Regions from separate parts of the Homo sapiens genome. Here all the other regions are linked to region 1. Evidence: fine-mapped expression QTL. A gene starts in region 1. Each other region holds a variant in brackets. All regions are shown on one strand. Distances are between the middles of the regions.

Evidence for each region. PIP is the estimated chance that this variant, and not a neighbour inherited with it, causes the effect.
Region 2: its variant is fine-mapped to the expression of TXLNB in whole blood (TOPMed, PIP above 0.99).
Region 3: its variant is fine-mapped to the expression of TXLNB in amygdala (GTEx, PIP 0.98).
Region 4: its variant is fine-mapped to the expression of TXLNB in monocytes (TOPMed, PIP above 0.99). The same link has a PIP of 0.9 or more in monocytes after LPS, monocytes after Pam3CSK4 and whole blood.
Region 5: its variant is fine-mapped to the expression of TXLNB in whole blood (TOPMed, PIP 0.99).

The regions. Positions count from the first base shown.
Region 1 is chr6:139,289,364-139,294,471 of GRCh38, reverse strand. It overlaps TXLNB (taxilin beta), which reads left to right and starts at 2,474. Exons shown (of 10, transcript NM_153235.4): 1 at 2,474-2,551. The region is part of intron 4 of LOC102723690 (a long non-coding RNA gene); the gene reads right to left. RefSeq lists enhancers at 3,250-3,499, 3,700-3,759 and a silencer at 3,346-3,640.
Region 2 is chr6:139,315,649-139,320,756 of GRCh38, reverse strand. It overlaps a transcript of TXLNB not described here. Among named protein-coding and RNA genes, the nearest start is that of TXLNB, 26 kb to the right of the region's middle. The variant A/G (reference allele first, on the strand shown) is at 2,501.
Region 3 is chr6:139,123,295-139,128,402 of GRCh38, reverse strand. No RefSeq gene overlaps it. Among named protein-coding and RNA genes, the nearest start is that of HECA, 9.2 kb to the left of the region's middle. RefSeq lists an enhancer at 1,270-1,771. The variant T/C (reference allele first, on the strand shown) is at 2,880.
Region 4 is chr6:139,335,182-139,340,289 of GRCh38, reverse strand. It overlaps the pseudogene LOC100129844. Among named protein-coding and RNA genes, the nearest start is that of CITED2, 37 kb to the left of the region's middle. The variant G/A (reference allele first, on the strand shown) is at 2,242.
Region 5 is chr6:139,266,648-139,271,755 of GRCh38, reverse strand. TXLNB (taxilin beta) reads left to right here. Exons shown (of 10, transcript NM_153235.4): 4 at 1,130-1,300. It overlaps LOC102723690 (a long non-coding RNA gene), which reads right to left and starts at 420. Exons shown (of 5, transcript NR_197427.1): 1 at 207-420; 2 at 1-97. The variant A/G (reference allele first, on the strand shown) is at 2,667.

The DNA.
Region 1 (5,108 bases):
CACCTGGGGGTTTATGATTTCAACACATGAATTTTGGGGGGACACAAACATTCAGACCATAGCAAGCAGTAAATGATGCAGCCGTATCAAATGAGAGCCCCATGAAATCATAGCAGGCCATATGAATAAAAACTATGTAATAATTTGAATGAATCAAGTGTTGAGGAAATTCCCAAACCACATTGTAGAAGAGTACCAGAAACTCAAAAAACCCAGCAGTCAATAGAGTATTCATGTTGCAAGCAGCAATTTAAGTTCAGCAAAACAATATCTGTCACATAAAAGTAGTGTTATTAATTTGAGTCGCATTTATTGATTTTGTAGGCTTTAAAATGTATACATTTTAAAATTTATGTAACTACTGTAAGCATAAGGAATTTATCCTATTTTCATTTTAGTACATGTAGGTTCAAATAATAATATAATCCTTCAAATAATTTCCACATTATTTAAATTATTCTGTTAAGTGAGTCTATACATTATTTAAATTTGAAAAGCACTGACTTGTTTATATTTACTAAGAGATGTGATCGGGTCAGTTTGCTACAATCCAGGATGGAATGCCACCCAATTTGTGGCACTCACCAAGTATTCATTAATTTAGAAGAAAGTGCTTTTCTCTTTCATCAATTTTAATTCACTAACTTAATTATCAAATAATATAGTGAACAGCTTCATTGTCTTCAACACTGGAATTTCTTTATCCTGACTTCTGCTTGTTGGGTGCACTCATCTATATATAACTTATGCCTCCCCTAAACTCAGAGAATAAGTAGGACAAAACTGGGGGTGGGATGTTTTCATTTCCTTTTGTTGCCATAACATCTTATCACAAATTTAGCAGCTTAAAAATAACATAAGTTTGCTATTTTATATTTCTGGAGGTCGGAAATCCAAAACGAATTTCTTTGATCTAAGATCAATGTCGCAGGATTGCATCCCTCTGGAGGCTCTAGAGTATAATCTGTTTCCTTGCCTTTCCCAGCTTCTAGAAGCTTCCTGACCTATGCTGAGGTCATCAAATCTCCTTTTCTGCCTCCAATCCTACTGCCTTCCTCCCTCATTTATAAAGACCCTTATGAGGCTGAGTGCAATGGCTCACGCTTATAATCCCAGCACTTTGGGAGGCCGAGGTGGGCGGATCATGAGGTCAGGAGTTCGAGACCAGCCTAGCCAACACAGCGAAACCCCGTCTCTACTAAAAATACAAAAATTAGCTGGATGTGGTGGCAGGCGCCTGTAATCCCAGCTACTTGGGAGGCTGAGGGAGGAGAATCGCTTGAACCCGGGAGGTTGCAGTGAGCTGAGATTGCACCACTGCACTCCAGCCTGAGTGACAGAGCGAGACTCTGTCTCAATAAATAAATAAATAAATACCCTTATGATTACATTGAACCCACCCAGTAGTTCAAGATAACCTCCCTACCTCAGGATCCTTCCTCACATCTGCAAAGTCTCTTTTGTCATGTAAAGAAACATATTCACAGGTTCCAGGGAGTAGGACGTGGAGATCTTTTGGGTGGCATTATTCTGCCTCCCACAAGGGATGCCACTATGCCTAGCCTGTCCCCAGAGCAGAAACCGATGGAGGAATCTGCTTTGGAAGTATGGGAACACAAGCTCCAGAAAGAAAAATAAAAGGCAAATGGATGTAAATTAATAGACAGGCATTTTATGGTGAATCAGAAGGAATTTCTTTTTCTGAGGAGGATCAAGGAGCATGTTGAGGATTTACAAAATGTGGGAAAGCCACCAACTAAGGAAGAAAAAGCAGACTGCTTCCCTGAGGGTTTGTTTGAGATGGGAAGAGTTACCTGGGAAAGACTGTGCTCCAAGGTCACACCAATTACCACGTGCATGAAGATTATACTCAGTTCAGCTCCAAAATCACCATCTACATGTTTATTTCAAACTTTGCAAACAAACCAAACAATGACATCAGAATTAAAATGGTTCCACCACCTCCCTGTTCTTATGCCATTGTTTTTCTTTTTCCATGATTCCTGTAAGAAACCTGACACTAATTAAGCTAGTGCAAGAAGAAGAAGAAAAAGAAGATGAATCTTCCACCACACTGGAGATAACCCAAGAAGTAAGAAAAACTGATCTCTACCCAAAAAGGACAACAATGGTGAAAGACTGCATTTGCAACGGGGGTAATATACTCAGAGTTTAAATTTCCGAAAGGACAAACAAAACATGGAGAGTCTAATGAGATCTTCCAGCTGCTTCTCTCTGCTAAGGTATTTCCCCTGGCAACAGCTAGGGAAGCTTGGGTGTATTTTCCCCTTGCTGTGTCATATGATGTTCCTTTCCCTACCCCCACCTCCTCCAGACTGCTGCCTCCATCAGTGCCTGTGGCGTGTGTGTGTGTGTGTGTGTGTGCGCGCGCGTGCGTGCACGTGTGTATGTGTGTGTGTGTGTATTGGGTTTCTCTCTCCCTTGTAAGAACACAGCCAGCCCGCCCTCTCCTGCTGTTGCTGCAGCTCTGACTTGCTTTTTCCTGCCTCCTTCCTCTCCTCTCTCTTCTTGCTTAGCTTCTTGCCTTCTGGTAAGTATGACAAACACTCCCCCAAGCCCTGTGAGAAGGTATAGGGTGCGGTTTGTGGTGTTCGAAACTTGCAACTTTGAGATTGCCAGTGAACTGTTGGAGAACTTTTCATTGTTGTATTTATAAATAAAATGTGTTGCTTAGGGAGGGATGTGTCTGTGATAGTCATCTGGAATAGCCAACACAAGTGAAAAGTTCTCTCCCTGGGGAGGGGAAAATAAGGCAATAAAGTTTATATAAGATAAAAGTTAGAAATAATTTCTTTGCCACATAATATAAAATGGATGATTGAAAAGTAACAAAGTTCTCTGACTTTGTTTTTTTCCCTCTTGTTAACTTGTCTTGAGGCTACTTTTGGGAATTGAATTGTCCTGGGCTTTATAATGACTGTTCTGTTTTAAAGTAAATGTGGAACAGGAGTTTAAAGAATAGCCATGGAATTAAGAATTTAAAAAATCAATGATTGTGGCATCTCATGAAGAATAAATCAAATACAAACAGCCACTTGCATTTAGACTAACCGAAGTAAAACTCCTATGGACAGCTTATCTTAAATTAATTATTTTGAAGTTCATTTTACTTGAGATTTTATTTCATCCTAAGATAGTCTCCCCGACTTTAAAACCCATGTATGGATTTAAGCCACTAAATGTTTACTGTTTTCAATTTGACTGAAAAACGATTCTCTTGATTTTCAAGGATGAAGTGCTAAACGGCATGACTCATTTTAGAATAGCTTAAAATAACTTCTGGCTGGACAGCAGGTGCCGTGTGTCTTTCTCCGTGTTCAGGGGAGGCCTAAGTTATATATAGATGAGTGCAATCAACAAGTGAGGTCAGGAAAAGAAATCCCAGTGATGAAAATAATGAAACTGCTGCATTATTTGATAATCAAGTTGGTGAATTCAAACCAGTGAAAGAAAAAAAGTACTTCCTCTAAGTTATGAGTGTTTGGTGAGCATCACAAGTCAGTGGCAACATCTGTGTGTTGAATTTTCTGTTCTTGTTGGTGTCTGAGCATTCAATTGACATCTACTGCCCTGAGAACAGGAAAAGGAAGCTGTGCAGTTGTAGAACAGTATGCTTTTGTTTTCACTTTCATGTTACCACAACAGCAAAACCTGTGAATTATGAGGATCTTGCCACATTTTTATGCTGCTATTTAGCAGCATCACTGTTAAATATTATTTACAAATAAAATGCACCATAACTTAAAGGCCTAAACCAAATCTATTGCAACTCTAGAAGTGGTAATAGTCAGAAACCCTGGAATCTCTGACTCAGTACCATCTCTCACCCTTTCCTAAGGGCCCTTATTATTGCTGAATTATTTCTCGAGTTGGTCTCCTCCTTGTTTATGAAACATTGCTACTTCTTAAAAATCATTAAGTTTTTCTAGAGCTTCCTGACTTAGAAGAGAAAGTTGTAATCTGTTTTTCTCTTTTAAAAAATTGGTTTATATATTGGAATAAAAGAGTATTATAGAAATTTAAGGAATTGTTGTTATAAGTATCATCATGCTTTTGTTTTGTTTAGTTTTTGAGACGAAGTCTTGCTCTGTCACCCAGGCTGGAGTGCAGTGGCACGATCTTGGCTCACTACAGCCTCCGCCTCCCAAGTTCAAGCAATTCTCATACCTCAGCCTCCCAAGTAGCTGGGACTACCGGTGCCCGCCACCACACCTGGCTAATTTTTGTATTTTTAGTAGAGACAGGGTTTCACCATGTTGGCCAGGCTGGTCTCCTGGCCTCAAGGATCCACCCGCCTCGGCTTCCTAAAGTGCTGGGATTACAGACATGAGCCACAGCACCTGGCCCGTGTTTCCATACTACTTTGTCTATTTATTTATACCTTCCCTCATTCCCTGTCTTAATCTAAAAATGATGCCAGTTTAAGCCTCAAAAAAAGCATTCGTGTTGCTTATCTGAAAAAGAAAATGCCAGAAAAGTGAGAAATGTCTCCTCTATCCAGTGTAATAATGCATTTACATCAAAATATTCACACTAAGCAAAATATTGATTTATGGATCAAATAGAGCTTAGAGATGTTATTCTTATGAGTTATTTAAATAAATTCAATGGCTCTTCTATTAAATATTTTAACTTTGAAAGAAAACTAATACCACTTTATATTTAAACATTTTAAATATATACAGTCATGTACCCCCAGTGATTGTTAATCTACATAGAATTATACAGGAAAATGGTAACACAAACTGACTAGTGTAAGCAAAATGACAAATATGGCCACAAAGAAAAATAGCATGAATTACTTTCTTAATGTGAATAATAAGGAATGCTACTGAAAACTGAAGATCAAAACCAAAAATATGCCAGCAGTGTGACTTGATTTGGAAAAACAACTTTCCACTGTCCCTACTTTAATAATTGTAATGCAGCAGGACAAGCCGCAGACAAAACCCTTCAGACACCCAGTTAAAGAAGGAAGCAGTTTAATCGGCCGGGAGCGTCAGCAAGACTCCTGTCTCAAGAGCCGAGCTCCCTGAGTGAGCATTTCTTGTCCCTTTTAAGGGCTCACAACTCTAAGTGCGTGCACG
Region 2 (5,108 bases), 26 kb before region 1:
CCAGTGCAGAGCTAGAAAGTCTTGAGCAAGTTGATAACTTGTCTCTGCCACAGATTTGTCTTTTGAAAATGGGAACAATCACACTGCTCACCTCTAGGTTGGTAAAAAAAAAAAATGAGATTATATGCTTAGAAAATTTTCTGCCTACAGAAAATTCCCCAAAAGTGGAGTTTTACAAATTAAGTAAATGATAATCGAAATAAAAAGGAACCCATTTGATTTCCAGTGTCTCGTCTCCAACCCAGTCCCATGAATTTGGATTTTTGGTGATGGTAATATTTTAGTGAAGGAAACTTGAGTTCACTGGCAACAGTTGTGTTCCTCTAGGACTGAAAATATCAACTCATAACGAGCTAGCAAGGAAGGCAATTGTCTCACTGATTTTGTAAATATTCCTTGTGGTTTCCAGAAATTATTTGGAAACAGAAACCTAAAGGAAGAATAGATTAGTGCTCAAAATCGATAATATGAGTAAGAATATAATGTAATTGTCTACTCCCAAATTGATGAATTAGGACCTATGTGTCATACAAAATTTTAGAAAACATATAGGCTTAGTCACCACTTAGAAGTTACTTAAGTAACTTTTATTTAAGGGAAAGAGAAGTTAGAAACCAGGCACTAATATTTATTTTAAAGAGTTAATAATTTAATACCACATTGGATTTTAATAACTTTAACAAATTATAATTTAAAACAAGATATAAAATACATATTCAATAACCACTACAAATTAAGAGATATTTCAGTTATTTATATATATATGGCCATAAGCTAAATATTTATAAAGTAGTAGAAATGTATTTTTAATAACTTTTTTTTTACTTTTTATCCACTTCACTATGCTGTGTATTGCTAATCCTTTCTAAATGTCTCATTTCCTGTTGTAATTGTTAAATACTATAAATAGTCATTTATTAATTCATGTGAAATACTCATTTAAAAGGATTTACTTGTTCTCATGTTGCTCCTTTTACTTATTTATTTTTTTAGAGACAGGGTCTCACTCTGCCACCCAGGCTGGAGTGCAGATGGCACAATCATGGCTCACTGTAGCTTTGACCTCCCAGGCTCAAGTGATCCTCCTGCCTCAGCCTCCCAAATAGCTGGTACACAGGTACATGCCACCATGCCCAGCTAATTTTTGAATTTTTTTTTGTAGAGATGGGTTCTCCCTATGTTGCCCAGGATGGTCTCAGACTTCTGAGCTCAGCCTCCCAAAGTGCTGGGGTGTGGTATAAACCACCACAGCTAGCCTTATATTGCTCCTTTAACAAAGGAGGTGTGGTCATGCCACTGCACTCCAACCTGAGTGACAGAATGAGACCCTGTCTCAAAAAAAAAAGAAAGAAAGGAAGGATGGGTGCAGTGGCTCACACCTATAATCCCAGAACTTGAGGAGGCCAAAGCAGGCAGATCGCTTGAGCTCAGGACTTTGAGACCAGCCTGAGCAACATGGCAAAACCACATCTCTGCAAAAAAAAAAAAAAAAAAATTTTAAAGGGAGAAAGACATTGGCTGGGTGTGGTGCTCATGCCTGTAATCCCAGCACTTTAGGAGGCCGAGGCGGGCAGATCACGAGGTCAGGAGTTCGAGACCAGCCTGGCCAACATGGTAAAACCCCGTCTCTACTGAAAATACAAAACATTAGCCGGGCATGATGGTGCGTGCCTGTAGTCCCAGCTACTTGGAGGGCTGAGGCAGGAGAATCTCTTGAACCCAGCAGGCTGAGGTTGCAGTGAGCTGAGATCGCGCCATTGCACTCCAGCCTGGGTGACAGAGCAAGACTCCATCTCAAAAAAAAAAAAAAAAAAAAAGGAAGGAAGACAATCTAATATCCTGAACAAAGCTTTAATCTCTTAAACTCAAAAAAAGGCTAACTACCATTTGTGAATTCATCATTTTAGTTTATTCATTTATATCAACTAATATTTATAGAGATTGCTACATCAATCAATTTTAATGTGGATTTATTGGCAACAAATACACTCATATTTTGTCTGGAAAAAATGTCTTTACCTTCAGATGTTTGCACTGCTTATAGAATTCTAAGTTGGTTAGTATGCTAAAAATATCAGTCCATTGTCTTCCATTGTCATCTAGCTTTCATCAGTTTGTTTCTGCTTGGAAATAATGTGTTTTGTCCTCTGGATGCTTTTAACATTTTCTCTTTGTCTTTGGTTTTAAGCAGTTTTACCAAGGTACACACCTTGGTACCTTGATGTGCTTGGGTTTTATAGAGATTCTTGAATGTTTGACTTGATATCTTGTGTCAGTTTTGGAAGCTTCTCAGCCAGTATCCCTTCAATTATTGTTTATCTCTCATTCTCTTTCTCGTTTCCTTTTGGGGATCTAATTACACATACGTAAGAATTATCACCACTTTTCATATATCTCTTCTTCTCTTATATTTTTCATCTTTTTAATTTCATATTTCTTATTTAGCAGTTCCATAATCCTTTCTTTTCTTTTTTTTTTTTTTTTTTTGAGACAGAGTCTC[A/G]CTCTGTCACTCAGGCTGGAGTGCAGTGGCGTGATCTTGGCTCACTGCAAGCTCTGCCTCCCAGGTTCACGCCATTCTCCTGCCTCAGCCTCCCAAGTAGCTGGGACTACAGGCACCCGCCACCACCCCCAGCTAATTTTTTGTATTTTTTAGTAGGGACGGGGTTTCACTGTGTTAGCCAGGATGGTCTCGATCTCCTGACCTCGTGATCCATCTGCCTCGGCCTCCCAAAGTGTGGGATTACAGGCGTGAGCCACCGTGCCCGGCCCCATAATCCTTTCTTTTACTGTCTAATATGCTGTTTAGATCATCTGATGAGATCTTTTCTTCTGTTTTTTAAATTTTTTAAAAAATTCTCACAATGTTGCCCAGGCTGGTCTCAAATTCCTGGCCTCAAGTGATCCTGTTGCCTCAGTCATCTGATGAGATCTTAATTTTGATTATTTGTATTTCTCAACTATAACTTTCATTGGATCATTTTTATAGATTCCAGTTCTGTGGCAAAATTTTATATTTATAAATCTATTTTCTTAACTCTATTATTACCATTAAAAAGCCTCTGTCTTGGCCGGGCATGGTGGCTCACGCCTGTAATCCCAGCACTTTGGGAGGCCGAGGCGGGAAGGTCAGGAGATCGAGATCATCCTGGCTAACACGGTGAAACCCTGTCTCTACTAAAAATACAAAAAATTAGCTGGGCGTGGTGGCGGGCGCCTGTAGTCCCAGCTACTCGGGATGCTGAGGCAGGAGAATGGCATGAACCTGGGAGGCGGAGGTTGCAGTGAGCCGAGATTGCGCCACTGCACTCTAGCCTGGGCCACAGAGCGAGACTCCGTTTCAATAAAAAAAAAAAAAACCTCTGTCTTTATAACTCTAATATATAGGCCATCTATTGTTTCTGCTTTAGTATTTGCCCATTTTTTTTCCTGTCTCTTGGGATGTCTGGTAATTTTTTACTTAATGCCAATCATTGTGTATGATGAGTTACAAGATCACTGGATAATATCTTCTTTTAGAGATGACTTTTTTTTTCTAAAAGACAGAGAAGCTACACATCTTGATCCAATCAGTGACTGAACTAACTAAAATATAAGAGGTCCTTGGAAATGTCTGAACTCAATTTTTGTCTCTCTCAAACACTGTGAAACTATCTCAAGTTCTGCTTGATTTCTCAGCCTCTTAGCTTCCACTTTCTGCTTTATCGCTTATATTCTCACACTGGAACCTCAGGAATAATCAGATTCCCCGAGGGAAAAAAAGAGTTGCAGAATATCCAACCCACTTTTCTGCAATTCCCTTTTCTCCAGTCTTGGATCCTCAAGTACATGACTAGTATTGAACTCCAACCTTTGCCTCCCCAGCCTTGTGAGCCTTAACTGTTCTAGGCCTTTCCTTCTGCTTTTCCTCTCACCTGGGCCACTTACATATTGAAAAATGGCTTGAAAGGACAACCCACAAAGAATGTGAGGTTTACCTCAATGCATTTCCCCTGACTCCAGAATTTGTACCATTAATTGCAGCAGTCTTAGTTGTTCTCAGATGTCTCCAAAAGCTGTTTTTTAAAAAATACTTTTTACAGGCTTTTTTGTTATTCTTGTGTTAAAGAAAAGATTGTTCAATGATACTTGTTAAAGCACAGTAAGGAAGACTTTATTCAAGATCAGCAACATATGTTTAGGGACCACTGCAACAGGGTCTTGTAGTATGAAAGATTGGGCTCAATTCCAAATACAGCCTGGGCAAGTGGGAATTTATAGCTAAGAAATAGGGTAGAGGGTCTGTGATAAGAAAAAAAAAATTACTAGCAGAAAACATCAGGGGTAAGGGAATTCTGACTAAACCAACCTAACAGGATTCTTGCTGAAGACAGGCCAGGGTGATCAAACATCACCTGTGGTGGGAGGGGAGGGATAAGAAACCTGATCATATATCAAAGGTGATCAGATATTAAAGGTGGGGGTTCTTGGTAAAATGACTTAATAGTGTTCTTTTCTAAAACTGGATTTTATAAGGAAGTGCACAGGTAGGCCTAAGAGAAGGTTCAGGACCCTGACTAAAGCTTAGCCAAGCAAAGAATCTTTGTCCCTTGTCAGAAGAGAGGGCTTAGGCCGATATAACCTACTGCCTCACAGATAGAAGTGGAAATTTTCTAACAAGATTTTTACATTCTTCTCTGTATATTCTTACCAAATATTTTTTCTCCCTGTCATTTTTTACTTATTATTTAAACTTAATGAAGTTTTACTATTATTACTATATTATATAATTTAGTTTTCACATTTCTTATTTATTGAAATCTGTATCATTTTAAATTCTGTATCTTTTTGGCTTGTAACTTCATAATCCAAATTCTCTTTATAAGTTCTCTGTGTCTAAAATAACATCCATTTTAAGTCTGTTGATTAAATGGCTTTATTTCTAAATTTATAAGAAAGTAATTGTGATTTTTTAAAAAGCTGGCCCACATACATTTTATTCATCTCAGCATAAATTATTTTTCTTCTATCATTTGCTTTATTCTCATGAAGAATTTTAAACTCCCTTGTCTGAATATTCATCCTTGCCTCTCACAATTTTTATAATATATTCTACTTAAAGGGAATCTGAA
Region 3 (5,108 bases), 170 kb after region 1:
GGTAAAATAAGTCTAGGAAACACTGTATATTGTATGAGTCACAATATATATTAGCATAGTAAAGATCCTAAAAGTCCAGCAGTAAAGAAACCTGTTTACTCTCAACTTAGAATTTCCCAAATGTATATAACCTATAAATCCTTTTACATGTAATGCTTATTAACATTCTACGGAAGTAGAGTCCTGCTGAATATTTTTAGGGGAAATAATGCCTTGGAACAACAACAACAAAAATCTACTTCTAGCTGGGCACAGTGGCTCACACCTGTAATCCCAGCACTTTGGGAGGCTGAGACAGGCAGATCACTTGAGGTCAGGAGTTTGAGACCAGCCTGGCCAACATGGTGAACCACCCCCGCCATCTCTACCAAAAATATAACAATTAGCTGGGTGTGGTGGTGCACTCCTATAATCCCAGCTACTCGGGAGGCTGAGGCAGGAGAATCTCTTGAACCTGAGAGGCGGAGGTTGTGGTGAGCCCAGATGGTGCCACTGCACTCCAGCCTGGGCGACAGAGTGAGACTCCATCTCAAAAAAAATAAGGAAGAAGAAAAAGAAAAGAAAACAATCTACTTCTGGCACTAGCAATCAGGTGAGTATTGATACAATGGTGAAAAGACAGATACTGGATCCCTCTTGTAAACAACCAGTTCTTTAGAAAACTTCTTGGGAAATATCTTCAAAACTATAAAACGGAAACTGTCAGAAGATATAATACATTAAGTACTAATTCTAAATGATGTAAACAGTTGAACATTCATGGTATTGCTTCCATTTTAAGAAACTTCAAATATGCTGTAATTGTTATAGGTAACAAAAATTTACCATCACATGAACAATCAGTTTCACATTTAGTCCAGTAATAAGTACTGCTATGTATGGTTCTGGAGTTCATTTCAATCAATCTCGAATAGAATTTTGTCTTAAGATTTCCTTTCCTCCTGCAGAATATTTGTTCTAAGTCCTTAAATGCAAACATAGCACTGCATGGATTAAAGATGAACACAAATGTGCTACTCCTCTCTTCAAAAGGTGGAGTCTGTTTGCCTTCCCCTTAAATCTAACCTGGCCTTGTGACTTGCTTTGACCAATTAGAAATGCAGCAAAAGTGCAATTGCTCTAGTCTGGACCCTAAATTTGCTTTTGCTCTCCCAAAAGCCAGCCACCATGCTGCAAAGAAACTTGAGCCAGACTATGGAATGATGAGAGGCCACATGGAGAGGGTGACAAAGACTCCGTCCTTGACCAAACTTGAGTCAGGCCCCTCTGATTCCTCTTTTTGACTAGGCCCCAACCTTGCCTCGTCCTTGGCCTGCTTAGTTCCGTTTTAGCAAGAATCTTGCTGGGTCAATTTCATAAAAATCCCCAACTTTCCGTATGAGATCAGCCTGGCCTGCCTTCAGCAAGAATCCTCTCAAGTCAGTTTGGCCACAATCCCCCTAACCTTGATGTTTCCTCTTAGTAACTGTCTATCCACTGACTCCCACCCCTGCTCCTTGGCTACAAATCCCCACTTTTCCTTGTTGTATTTGGAGTTGAGCCCAATCTCTCTCTCCTAATACAAAACTCCATGGTAGTAGTTCCCCTGAAAAGTTTGCATTACCATCTGTAACAAATGTCATGAATAACATTTTTCTTTAATAAAAGATCATGGACATGTGGAAGATGAGAAAGGATACTTGTGTTCCAGCCCCAGCCAAGCTCTTAGCTTCGTGGTTCTCAACCCCTGGCAATTTTGCCTTCAGGGACATTTAGCAATGTCCAGGGATATTTTTGGTTGTCACTTCTAGCATCTAGTAGGTTGAGGCCAGAGATGCTGCTCAACAGCCTGCAATGCACAGGACGCAACAACAAACAATTATCCAGCCCCGAATCTAGTGCCAAGCTTGAGAAATCCTATCTTAGCTGAATATAGCTGTATGAGTCACCACAGCTTTACCACATGGAACAGATTGCCCGGATGAGCCTAGTCAACCCACAGAATTGTGAGAAATAATAAATAGTTGCTGTTTTAAGCAACTCTTGGGGTAGTTTTAGTGCTGTGCTGTTGCTAAACTGGCTGGGAAGGGATGTGGGAGGGAACTCTGATTTGTAGCATTTCTAGTTGCCCATGGTATAAATACTCCTACTGTGGCCAGTTTTAGGTTATCAGCACAAGCCACTGAACTCAAGGTTGGGAAGAGATGTGCACAACCAGCTCTTATGAGCCAATGGGAAATGATTAAATTGTTATATTATAGTAGGCAACGGAGGCAACATCCCATGTACAAGATCTTCTTATGCCTGAAATTCTAGGTATGGCCACTTCCTATATGCTGTTGATCACCTAGTCATAGTTCTCTACTTCTATATTGTGTTAACATTTCTACTAGAAAATTCTATTTTAAGTGCTGACATACTGATTCTGCAGCCTTCCTGGTTTGGGCCATTTTTTTGCACCATTAAAGTTGCCAAGTTGGGTTTAGCCAACAGTCTCCCACAGAGGATCACAGCATGGACTCTACTCCAAACCAATCCTACCACACTCTCCAATTTGTAATATTGTGGCCCATGGTCTGGTTTGGGTTAAAACATTGCCCTTGGTAATCTGTGGGGTTTCTTTGTAAGAGGAAACACCTGATCAATACCTAAAGGAGCTGCTCAAAAGTGGAAGCCAGGGTGATAAGAGTACCACTGTGTATTGTTTGGACCTACACTACAGTGTGCATTTGTTAAAAAAACAAAACAAAACAAAACAAAAAAACAAACCTTTCCCTTCAAGATAGAGGAAATTCCTTCTAGCATATAAGCAGAAAACATTTGTTATTTCCTAGAGCAGGCACTTCTCAGGTTTCAGGGTAGATGCCAGCTTTAGATCCAATGAAGAGTTATTATAGTTT[T/C]GTGGTTAGGGGCGTGTGTACGGAGCCAGACTTTCCGAGTTGCAGTTTTGGCTTGCTAGCTGTGTGATCTTGGACAAGATATTTGTGAAATGGGGATAATGGTATCTATTTCAGAGTTAAGACTCATAATGTATGTGTAGGGCCTAGCGCATAGTAAGCTCTCAATAAATAGTGGTTGTTATTACCAGGAGCATTTACATTTTATATTCTTTGTCTGTTGCTATTTGCCTTTTTTTCTTTTTAACTGTAAGTGCTATTTAACTTTCTCCTTTTTAACGGTAAACAAGATTTTTTTTTCTAAAAGCAGTACTAGTTCTAGGTCAAGGATAAACTCTTTTCAGCATACAACTGTAGTCTCATCCCAGAACAAACCACACCCCACTTCCTGTTGCATGCAGATACAGATACCTTAAAGGGACAGTTTGTACCAGGGACCCATGCAGGATGCTAAGATTGCAACAGAGCGCACTCTGGTGTACAAAGCTGGGAGCCGGTGGGGAGGAGATTATGAGAAGCAATGCCTTGCCCAAGTTTGAAGTTGATTTGTCCAGCTCTAAGAAGTTATTGTAAGTTACTAGATAAGAATGATGTGATGAAAACATCGTTTTGGAAGAATACTCTGATAGTAACATTCAGGATACATTTGATAGGAAAAGTGGTGACAAGGAAGCCAGCCGAAAATATATTGTATCATCGTTGGGATGAGACGATGAGAATTTGCAGTTAGGGAGTTAAAAGGAGAACCGAGGAAAAGGATCACTATAGGAGACATTTTAAAGGGAAAAAAAAATCATAGTACTTAAAGACAAAAATTTGATCTTAAAGAAAAGCCATCCCACCATCTTATTCTGTTTAGATCATACCATAAGTTTCAGTACCCACAAATAAATTGCTAGCATTTTCTATTCTAGTAAAGCCTGTAAGTGGAAAAAATAACCCAATATTTGCTATGTTGGTTTGTTCTCTTTTAAAGGACAAAATTAATCTACTATGAATCAAGACTTGAAAGTTCTAGGTGAACATAGCACTTATTCCAAAACTGACCACATAGTTGGAAGTAAAGCACTCCTCAGCAAATGTAAAGGAACAGAATTGTAACAAACTGTCTCTCAGACCACAGTGCAATCAAACTAGAACTCAGGATTAAGAAACTCACTCAGAGCTGCTCAACTGCATGGAAACTGAACAACCTGCTCCTGAAGGACTACTGGGTACATAACAAAATGAAGGCAGAAATAAAGATGTTCTTTGAAACCAATAAGAACAAAGACACAACATACCAGAATCTCTGGGACACATTTAAAGCAGTGTGTAGAGGGAAATCTGTAGCACTAAATGCCCACAAGAGAAAGCAGGAAGATCTAAAATGGACACCCTAACAACACAATTAAAAGAACTAGAGAAGCAAGAGCAAACACATTCAAAAGCTAGCAGAAGGCAAGAAATAACTAAGATCAGAACAGAATTGAAGGAGATAGAGACACAAAAAACCCTTCAAAAAATCAATGAATCCAGGAGCTGGTTTTTTGAAAAGATCAACAAAATTGATAGACTTCTAAGAAGACTAATAAAGAAGAAAAGAGAGAAGAATCAAATAGACGCATTAAAAAATGATAAAGGGGATATCACCACCGATCCCACAGAAATACAAACTACCATCAGAGAATACTATAAACACCTCTATGCAAATAAACTAGAAAATCTAGGAGAAATGGATAAATTCCTGGACACATACACACTCCAAAACAAGGAAGAAATTGAATCCCTGAATAGACCAATAACAGGCTCTGAAATTGAGGCAATAATTAAGAGCCTACCAACCAAAAAAAACCCCAGGACCAGATGGACTCACAGCCGAATTCTACCAGAGGTACAAAGAGGAGCTGGTACCATTCCTTCTGAAACTATTCCAATCAATAGAAAAAGAGGGAATCCTCCCTAACTCATTTTATGAGGCCAGCATCATCCTGATACCAAAGCCTGGCAGAGACACAACAAAAAAAAAGAATTTTAGACCAACATCCCTGATGAACATCGATGCAAAAATCCTCAATAAAATACTGGCAAACCGAATCCAGCAGCACATCAAAAAGCTTATCCACTATGATCAAGTGGGCTTCATCCCTGGGATGCAAGGCTGGTTCAACATACGCAAATCAATAAACGTAATCCATCATATAACAGAACCAAAGACAAAAACCACATGATTATCTCAATAGATGCAGAAAA
Region 4 (5,108 bases), 46 kb before region 1:
ACAAAATTAGCTGGGCATGGTGGCACATGCCTGTAATCCCAGCTACTTGGGAGGCTGAGGCAGGAGAATTACTTGAACCCAGGAGGTGGAGGTTGTGGTGAGCTGAGATCGCGCCATTGCACTCCAGCCTGGACAACAAGAGTGAAACTTCGTCTCAAAAAAAAAAAGAAAAGAAAAGAAAAGAAAAAAACAGAAGACCAAACTATATGCTGCATATAAGAAATGTACTCTCTCTCCATATATATTTTCTTTCTTCTTGATCAGTCTAGCCAGAGATTGACCAATTTCACTGATTTTCTCAAAGTAACTGTTTTTGGTGTTATTCATTTACACACACACACACACACACACACACACACACACACACACGTTAGATGTTAAAAGACAGAAAAAGATAATCTAGCTAACCTTAACTATAAGAAAGTTGTAGTGACTATATTACTACCAGACATGATAGATTTCACAGCCAACAATATTACATGGGATTTTTCAAGTTTATTTCATAATGATAAAAGGTCATAAACAAATCTAAACATTTATGCACCTAATAATAAAATACATTGAGCAAAAAACTGATAGATCTACAGGAGAGGCAGACAAATTATGGTTTGAGATTTAAATATTCCTCTCTTAATAGAAATGATCTGCTGATTACATTTAAACTGAGCGACTCTGCATTTTCTGGATTCTGGATGGTTGCCTTTCATGAGCCCAATCGAAGAAAGAAAATCCTTGGACCAGATGCTTCACAGCTGAAGCCCGTAGGACCGCGGAAGAATACCTTGAAGATATTGTTTGCATCAAAATCACCCAAATTTATGTCTTCCTTATCCAGGTCCTGCCCACTGTGATAATGAATCGTTTTCTTGGAATCAAAGAGGATGATAAAGACCTCGCCACTTCCTTGATCTTCTCCTCCTCCTTTTGAACCCCAGCGCTGGCTCCATCATGACGATGTGGATGGTACTTCAAGGCCTGTTTCCAATAAGCTTTCTTGATCTTGTCCTCAGAGGCATTCTTGTCACTTCCAGAACCTTGTAGTAATTATCCCTCTTACTCTTCTTCAGTTCCAGCTGTGCATTTTTTAGGAGCTGTTTGTATTCTTTTGTTTTCTCCATCTGATATACTTTTTTCATAGCCTCGCACTGTTTCTTCATACTGTTCTGTGTCCAAGAAACACTGAGCTCTTCTCAAGTAGGCTTTTATGTAAGTGTCATGAGCTTCACTGCATTTGTGCAGCTGTCTATTGCATCATCTAGTTTCCCAAGCTCGGAATTAACCATATCCCGGTTACAGTAGAGTTTAGCAATTGCTTTTATGTTGTCGGGGTCTACCCCGGGGGTTCTGCGTACAGTTCATCAGCTAGTTTGTAATTTCCTTCCCTAAACGCTTTATTCCAGTCTTCTTTCTTTGCGTTAAGTGCTCTGGCATTTCTGCACGCAAGGCAGGCCTTCTCATGGTCAGGAACCACTCTGAGAGCCTGTACAAAAAACTGAACAACTGCCTACTCAGTACAATCTTCATAATAAAGGCAAGGTCCGCGTACATACAGAGCATCCACATTGGTGGAATCCGTTCATAAAATGTCACTGGCCACAGACTGTGCTTCTGGATAACGACCCAGCATTGCTAAACATTCTGCTTTGAGGGATATTGAAGTGATGGCAGACAGGGGCAAATTCTAGGGCATAGTCCATGCAGAAAACAACCTTCTGAAAAGCCCACTTCTCAAAACTTGTTTCTATGACTTTCTCCTATTCCTTGACTGCATTAGCATTTGTGAACTCCTGTTGTGAGTGAGCATTGTTATGATCCAGTTCTAGGGCTCTCTGAAAACTGCAATGTGCTGCCATGGCATTCCCTGGAGAGAGGTGGCACTTGCCCTCTCGTAGATGTCCCCAGAAGAAACCATCATCCAATTTCACTGTGAAAGTATCTCCATGGGCTTCGCAGAACCTTCCAAGTATCATCAATGTAGCTGCTCTATTACTATGATAGCTAGCATTTTTAGGGCACATATCTGTGGCTTTTGTTTAATAGTTATAAGCTTCGTTGTAATCTTCCTTGGCATAGTGTGCATTTCCTTGTTGCTTCAAAGACTGTGCTTCAGTATTTTAAATTACAAACTGGCAAAGCCACCCTCCTTTTATTGAGGCGATCCTGCCTTTTTGTTCTTCTCCATCACTGTCCTGGCAAGCCGTCTTTGCTTCCTCTTCATGGAGCAGCCCTGGCTTGGTTGCC[G/A]CACCACATTGCACGATGGGGCAACTGACAGTTTCTTAAAAAGGAAATTATATCCCTGCCATATGACGCAGCAATTTCACTCCTAGATATTTACTTAAAGGAAAACAAAGTATGTATCTATACACACAAACTTGTAGATGAATATTTATAGCAGCTTTATTTATAACAGCAGAAACCTAGGGAAAGAAGGCTTCAATGTTTATGTTCAGGTGAGTGGATAAACAATTTTTGGTATGCCCATATAACAGAATACAAATCAATGCAAAAAGTGAACTATTGACTCACACAAAACATGGAAGAATCTCAAAATTATGCTGAGCGAAAAAAAATATATTTTTTCTCAGAATGCACACTATATTCCATGTATGTAAAATTCTAGAACACCAACTAATCTACAGTGTTAGAAAACAGATCAGTGGTTGCTTGGGGACTCAGAGGTATGGGGAGCAGGGAGAAGAAGGGGGTATTACCAACGGACATGAGGAAACTTATGATGCATATTTTCATTATCTTGATTATTATGCTGGGTGTATACAAATGTCAAAGCTTTTCAAGGTTTATAGTTTAATTATGTGCATTTTATTGTATGTCAATTTGGCCTCAATAAAGCTGTTAATAAAAATTTTGTCAAGCTTATGTTCCCCAGTAAATGAAATTTACTTCAAGTCACCAACAAAAAAACGTACAAGGTCCATTTTTCCTCTGTTCTGTGTTTACAACTGACAGTTAATATGAAAGACAGAATATCCAAAAATTCTATCTGCTGAGGGCCACAAATTATCAAGTCTCTTGTCAAGGGTGGCCAGCCACTGGTTAGTGGCTCAAGACACAAAATGCAGAACCAACACATTCAACTGACCATGATCATTTCTCCAGGGGTAATCTCAGTTCAAGTGTGCACTTCTGCCAGTCCAGACACTTGCTTCTTTATTATTATCCAAATGCTTGCACACATCTCACAAACTGGCACTAGTTCACCGATGATGATTTGGCCACTTTGGGAGAATTCCATATGTTTCCAAAATTGTCCATCTTACAGTGTTCTTAGAGCAAATGAAGTTTCTCTTCATTAGGACAGTAAAGTCCTAATGTTGAATGTACTATCTTTTTTGATTGGAATAAAGAAGCTTCTAAATAAAATTCTGATTCTCTAATAGCTTTAATTACAAGGAAAGCACCAAAAATCCATAGCTTATTACAGTCTGTCTTTTGATCCTGTGGCAAAGGCCTACCTTGCCTCACGGCTACAGCAGCCACTGCCAAATTCATGGCCGTGTCTGCTGGCACAATTCCAGGGGCTTTCTGGGAGCTCGTGCTACACAATTTTGGCCCTTAACTGAAAATACTCATTTCCAGCAAGCTGGTTTACTCCTGTAAGATCATCTTACCTCTTTGCAAATTACTAGCCATTATTATAACACTTTATACCTTGCTACTTCCACTCTCAGGAAAAGAAGAAATGCAAATAACTTGGGGTTACCTAATTCGTAACACCTCCCTAAAGTTAGATGCCACTTGGGCTAATTGAAATTTGGGGGAAGAAGCCTAAATTGAATGATTTTACCCTGAAACAATGTCTTAAAAATCCTAATTTGGCTAGGTTTATCCTGAATTAGAAGAATTAAATTTGTCATTACCAGGTAGAAATTTAGCATTTATGACAGAAATTAAATTTGGTTATAGAAAATTTTTAAAAATCTCTATTTCATGCACAATTAAGTCATGGACTGATCCATTTACAGCCACTAAAAAAGCATCCACCCCTACTAAGAGGAGGATCCAGCCTCCTGGTCTATCTCATTTGGGCAATGATGGAATGAATCATATAAGCTCCCAGACAAGGGTCTCAAGATAGAATTTAAAATAATTCCACTACAAGGATAAAGGAGATTATAGAATAGATTGGGACAGAAATAGGCATGCTAAGCCAGAATTCACACAGGAGTTCATTTGACTCTAAACCTATGCTCTTTTTTTTTTCTGATGAGATGGTTCAGAGTTTGCGTTTCAACTCACTAGCTTAGAGTCTGAACATTATTGCCTTTTATGTAAAAGAGGGATTATAGCGATCTTAAAGGGTGAGAGAGCCTTTGTAAAGGCCTGACACTAGCGTTTGACTCATTTTATTTAAAATTATAGCTATTTATGTAGCAGAATGTCAGGTGATGTTGTGGAGAAACTGAGGAACCAACCAAAAAAAAAAAAAAAAGGTTATATACCAAATGATCAGTTTTCTGGCCAGAGAGAATTTGTATTGAAATTGGCAAGAAAGAGGCAGCAGGATTTTTGAACTGCCTGTACATGATTAAGTGAAAGTCAGAGGGAGTCAGAAAAGAAATTATACTTGCTTTCACAGCTCCGTTCTACAGCATTCTTCCACCACAAAAAAGCTTGCAGGTGATTTGTTCAGACCAGTTCTAAACGCCTGCAGAGGTAACAGCCCCACCTTTTGGAGATTATTACTTCACCTAACTCTGATGGGAGACAAGCTAATAGGACTTCCCATTAAGAGTAGTTCTGGATACTAAATTTACTCATTTTCCTCTGTAGTCTGATTCCACTTCTTTTTATTTTCACCAATGTTCAGTGATCTTGCTTTGACTTATTGTTGCTGTTGACCTTGACTCATGGCTTCAGGTTATTCTATTCACCATCTACCTGTCCCTAGTTCTTCTTCGCCCCCTCCCTAAAAACTTCCAAAAAACCTTTCTGAGAGTATGTTTCTAAGTAACAGCCTTCCCTGTATGTTACAGCCTCTAAGATTATGAAGTCAACACCGACATGCTTCTTTTGAGACAGATTTCATCATCACAGCAGTGAAAGAAACACAAGATGCGTTTTAAGGGTGACTTTTTGAAAGATGAAGA
Region 5 (5,108 bases), 23 kb after region 1:
TGAGATCGACACTCCTAGAGTCCACCAATCTCTCTCTGGAGGCTTCTGAGGTTGATCCCCATACTCCCCACACCAGGTCTACAACTCCATAATAATGCTGCCAGATGTAACAAATAAAAATACAAAGTTTACGTTTCAGACAAACAACAAATAACTTTTTGGCAAAAATATGTCTCATGCAATATTTGGAATATATTAATACTTACGCTAAAAATTATTTCTTATTTATTTGAAATTTAAATTTAACTGGGTGTCCTGCATTTTACTGACAACCCTACCCTAGAACTTCAGCATCCAAGATGGAAAGTACAGCGGTAAGTTGGTTTCATGTTCCAAGGCAGTCCTGATACAGTACTTTAGTTGTGGCTGCTGGAGGAACATGAGAAGAGTTCAACTGGGCTCAGCAGAAACCAGCAGAATGATTTATTTGTTATAAGCACAGAGCGGGTGCGGGTGGGGAGCAACAAGGCGTGTTACAGATATTTGCTATTCATGCTGTTGAATCATGCAGAAGCTATTTCTGATGCTTTGGTGAAAACCCGTCAATGCTTAGGTAGTGGAAGGGTACTTTCTCTTCTCCTTTCCCACACATAAACAATCCACACTCAGAGCCCAACATTATAAAGAAGAGAACTTCATCTTCTGTTTACCAGGAGGCTGCATTTCTCTTTCCTATTTTTAAAAATAGCGCTAGAAGCTTGTTTCAAGGAAGAATTAGGAAAACTCAATGCAACCCAAGCAGACAGACTTTAGATCATTGCCTCAATGCAAGGCATCGTCATGAACTCTGGCAGTTTACAGATTCTGAGACATGCCTTTCTATTTTGTCTGGCTATTCAATATTGGTTAGATAGACTCAGGAAAAATATTTCTAGACCATCCAAAAATAGATCAAAGTAAAAAGAGACTAATAATAATGAAAAACCTATCAATGCTGTGTTCTAAAAACTATATACCTTCAAGTACTACAAAGGTGACGTTTGTGAATTTCATTTACTTCCAGAGGAAGAGATAATAGCAAAAAATGTTTCCAAACAACCACAGAGTAATCTTTAGGTTTGCTTTTTTTCTATCCACTCCAAGGAGATCCCTGCCATTTTCTTTCATGTTTGTATCTCCATGTGTACAGCTGGATGAACATCGTACTGAGCAAAAGAAGTTAAAGCTCCTCCAAAAGAAACAGGTACAAATTCAAAAAGAAAAGGACCAGTTACAAGGTGAACACAGCAGAGCTATCCTCGCTCGAAGCAAATTGGAGAGTCTGTGCCGGGAGCTGCAGAGACACAACAAGACTCTGAAGGTATGTCCCCATGCCTCAGAATAACATAATTTCTTGAATGGGGCACAGAGACAGGCCTCTGCTACTCATGGAAAGAGTGTGAATTTTAGAATCAGAGAGGCTTGGGTTCAAATACTGCCTCTGCCCCTTGCTTGCTTGTAACCTTAAATAATTTTACCTCCTTGAGCTACTTTCTTCATCCGTAAAATGGAGATTAGACCAGCTTCACTGTGTGGCTGGGAAAAAATTAGATGAAGTTGAATAGGTAAGGTACCCGCACAGTACCTGACACAGTGCAGGCCCTTGATAAAATGCATACCATTCCCCTTACCTTTCTATTATGTTGAGTTTGTTTCTAAGGTGGGCCTTAGTTCTTTTAAAAAAATACATTTGTAAAGATTCAGCATTTTTGGTGTTATAATGAATTCTGCATGACATGAGACAAATGGACACACACCGAATTGACACAGTGAAGTGAGATTGAGAACCAAAATGTCAATAGTCATCTGAAAAAAAGGAAGCTATTGGAAAAAGCACTGAAGCTCTTCAGGTTTAATTATTCAATCTAAAAATAATAGACTGATCACTTCATTTGGTCTGCACGGGTTTCATTAATTACAGCGTAAGCCCTAGCAGTGTGGTTAATTTGATTACACAGAGACACTAGCTCCATTCAATATAGCAAGATGCAGAGCTCTCCAAGATGATACTGTGTGCATCCCCAATCCCCTTTCCAGCTGAAGATCCTAAATCTTTTGACAAATAATAATTAATCAGACACCAGTGTTCCTGTAAGGTAGTTATTATTATAAGCGTTTAAAAGGAGATACTTCAAGAAACAGAGTACATGAAAATCACTGCTGAATTTGTACAATTGAGTTAGGAAGAAAAATAGAAGAGAATCATGGTTCCTCATTTTCCCAAATTGTTTTTTGATATTTGGGAAATGGAGAACCAGTGTGATGAAGTCAAAGTCTCAAATGGCAGGTTTTAGATGTGCTACTGGCGTCTTGTCAACAATAGTACTGAAGACAGACTCCCAGGCCGAATGGGGGCCTGAGGATGGAAGCATCGTCCTCAACTCAAGGTTTGGATTCAAAGGATGCATAAATCTCTTGTGTGCCTGCGTAAATCCACTGTCTGTCAGTAATGTTACACAGTAAGGAGATAAAATTAAATCAGATAGGGTGGGATCATTTATCAACAAAGAGATATAAAGAGTAGAATGATACAGCGTGGTCTTCTTGGGTAGTATTGAAAGACAGAATGTTCAGCTGGTCACAGTGGGTCACATCTGTAATCCTAGCATTTTGGAAGCCCAAGGCCGGAGGATCACTTCAGCTTGGGAATTCGAGACCAGCCTGGGCAACATTTATGAGAGCAAGAC[A/G]TTGTCTCTACCAAAAATCAGGAAAATTAGCTGAGTGTGGCACGTTCCTGCAGTGCCAGCTACTTGGGAGGCTGAAGCAGGAGGATCATTTGAGCCCAGAAGTTCGAGCCTGCAGTAAGTTATGATTGCGCCACTACACTCCAACCTGAGTGACAGAGAGCAATGTCTCAGAAAATAAAGAGAGAGAGAGAGAGATCTTATTAATACCATCCAACTGGCTAGAGATTCTCCCCCACCAAAAAAACAAAGACAGAATGATCAAAGTAGCAGGAGACCCTGTAAGTGTGCCCATATGCCCTCAGTAATGGCTTCTCATTATGAACAATGACATTAAGTATTATTATTATGCCAGAAGTTATGCTAAGTGCTTTATATACATTATTTCATTTAATCTTCATGATAACCCAGTGAAGGTTAATATCTCCACTTTATTGGTGAAGAAACTGACACTCAGCAATCCAAATTGGTTGTCCAAGATCAAGCATATTTAAATGTCAAAATCAATATTTGAAATTTGAATTCAAATTCAAAATATTTTCAAATTTTCTTTCTAATTTTTTCTTTGACCCAGGGATTATTTAGAAGTGTTATTTAATTTTTATAGCCGATCATACATGGTCTTATCTTGATACCATATGTACTTCAAAACAATGTTTTTCAGATGTTGGGTGTAGTGTTCTATAAGTAACAATTAGCTTTAAATCATTTATGCCTTTTTTGAATTTTTTTATCAATTGCTGAGAAATGAGAGTTAAAAATCTCTTCATATAATTGTGGAATTGTCCGCTTATTTTAATTATGTCAATTTCTGCTTTATGTACTTTGAAGCATTAATATTAGGTGTATATACATTTATGATTATTATGTCCTCTTGATGAATTGGTGATTTTACCTTTATGAAATGTCCCTTAGTAATCTTTTTTTTTTTTTTTTTTTTTGTGAGATGGAGTCTCGCTCTGTCGTCCAGGCTGGAGTGCGGTGGTGCAATCTCGGCTCACTGCAACCTCCGCCTCCCGGGTTCAAGCAATTCTCTGCCTTAGCCTCCTGAGTAGCTGAAATTACAGGCACCCGCCACCATGCCTGGCTAATTTTTGTATTTTTAGTAGAGACGGGGTTTCACCATCTTGGCCAGGTTGGCCTTGAACTCCTGAGCTTGTGATCTACCCGCCTCGGCCTCCCAAAGTGTTGGGATTACAGGTGTGAGCCACCACGCCCGACCAGTAATAATCTTTGTCTGGATGTCTACATTATCTGATATCAATTTAGCCACTCTAGTTTTCTTACTCTTATTGTTTGCCTGGTGTATCTCTTTTCATCCATTCATTTTCAGCCTGGGTCTTTATATTTAAAGTGCATTCTTTCAAGATAGCATATAGCTGGATCTTACTTCTTTTCATTCCTACAGTATCTGCCCTTTAATTGCAGTACTAGTCCATTAACATATAATGTACTTACTGATGTGGTTTGATATATGTCTACCATTTTATTATTTATTATTTGTCACCTCTGCTTTGTTTATCTTGTTCTTTTCCTGCCTTCCTTTGGATTATTTGAATATTTAAAAATTACATTTCATCTCTTGTATTTTGAAATTATAACACTACACATTATCTTTAGTAGTTGCTCTGTGATTACAATATACATTCTTAATTTTTCATAGTCTTCCTGGAGTTAATGTTGTATTACTTCACATAACATGTAGAAACACTGCAACTAAATAGATCAATTTACTCCCTCAGCCTTTAAGCTATCATCATTATATGTATTATATTTATATACTTTTGTAAAGCCGATGAGACATTGTTATAATTTTTACTTTAAACAATAATATGTATTTCTTCTTAAATTAAAGGCAAAACTATATCCCTTTTATCTACCCAGATGTTTACCATTCCTGATACTTCTTATTCATTCTGTAGCTTCACATTTCTGTCTGATGTCATTTCCCTCAGCCTGAAGTACTTCTTTTAGTATTTCTTATAGTACAAATCTGCTGGTAATCAATTCTCTTAGTTGCCTTTTATCTTTAAAACATCTTTATTTTTTTTTTAATTGAAGGCTAAATTCATTGGATATAGAATTCTGCATTGAGAGAACCTATTCGTGGGTTTTTTTTTTTTTTTTCCTTTTAGCCTTAAATAAATGTGCCACTATACTGGCTTTTAAAATTTCTCATGAAAATCAACAATCATTTGAATTATTGTTCCCCCATATGTGATATGTCCTTTTTCTCTGCCCTTTTCAAGGTCTTTGTATTGATCTTTCGTTTTCAGAACTTTTACTGCTTTAAGGCCAGGAGTGGTTTTTTTCACATGTACCCTACTTGGTATTTGCTAAGCTTTTTTGTATCTGTAATTATATGTCTTTTACCAAATTTGAATTTCTTTCAGCCATTATTTCTTCAAATAGTTTTTCTGCTCCACTTTCTCTCCATCTTCTTCC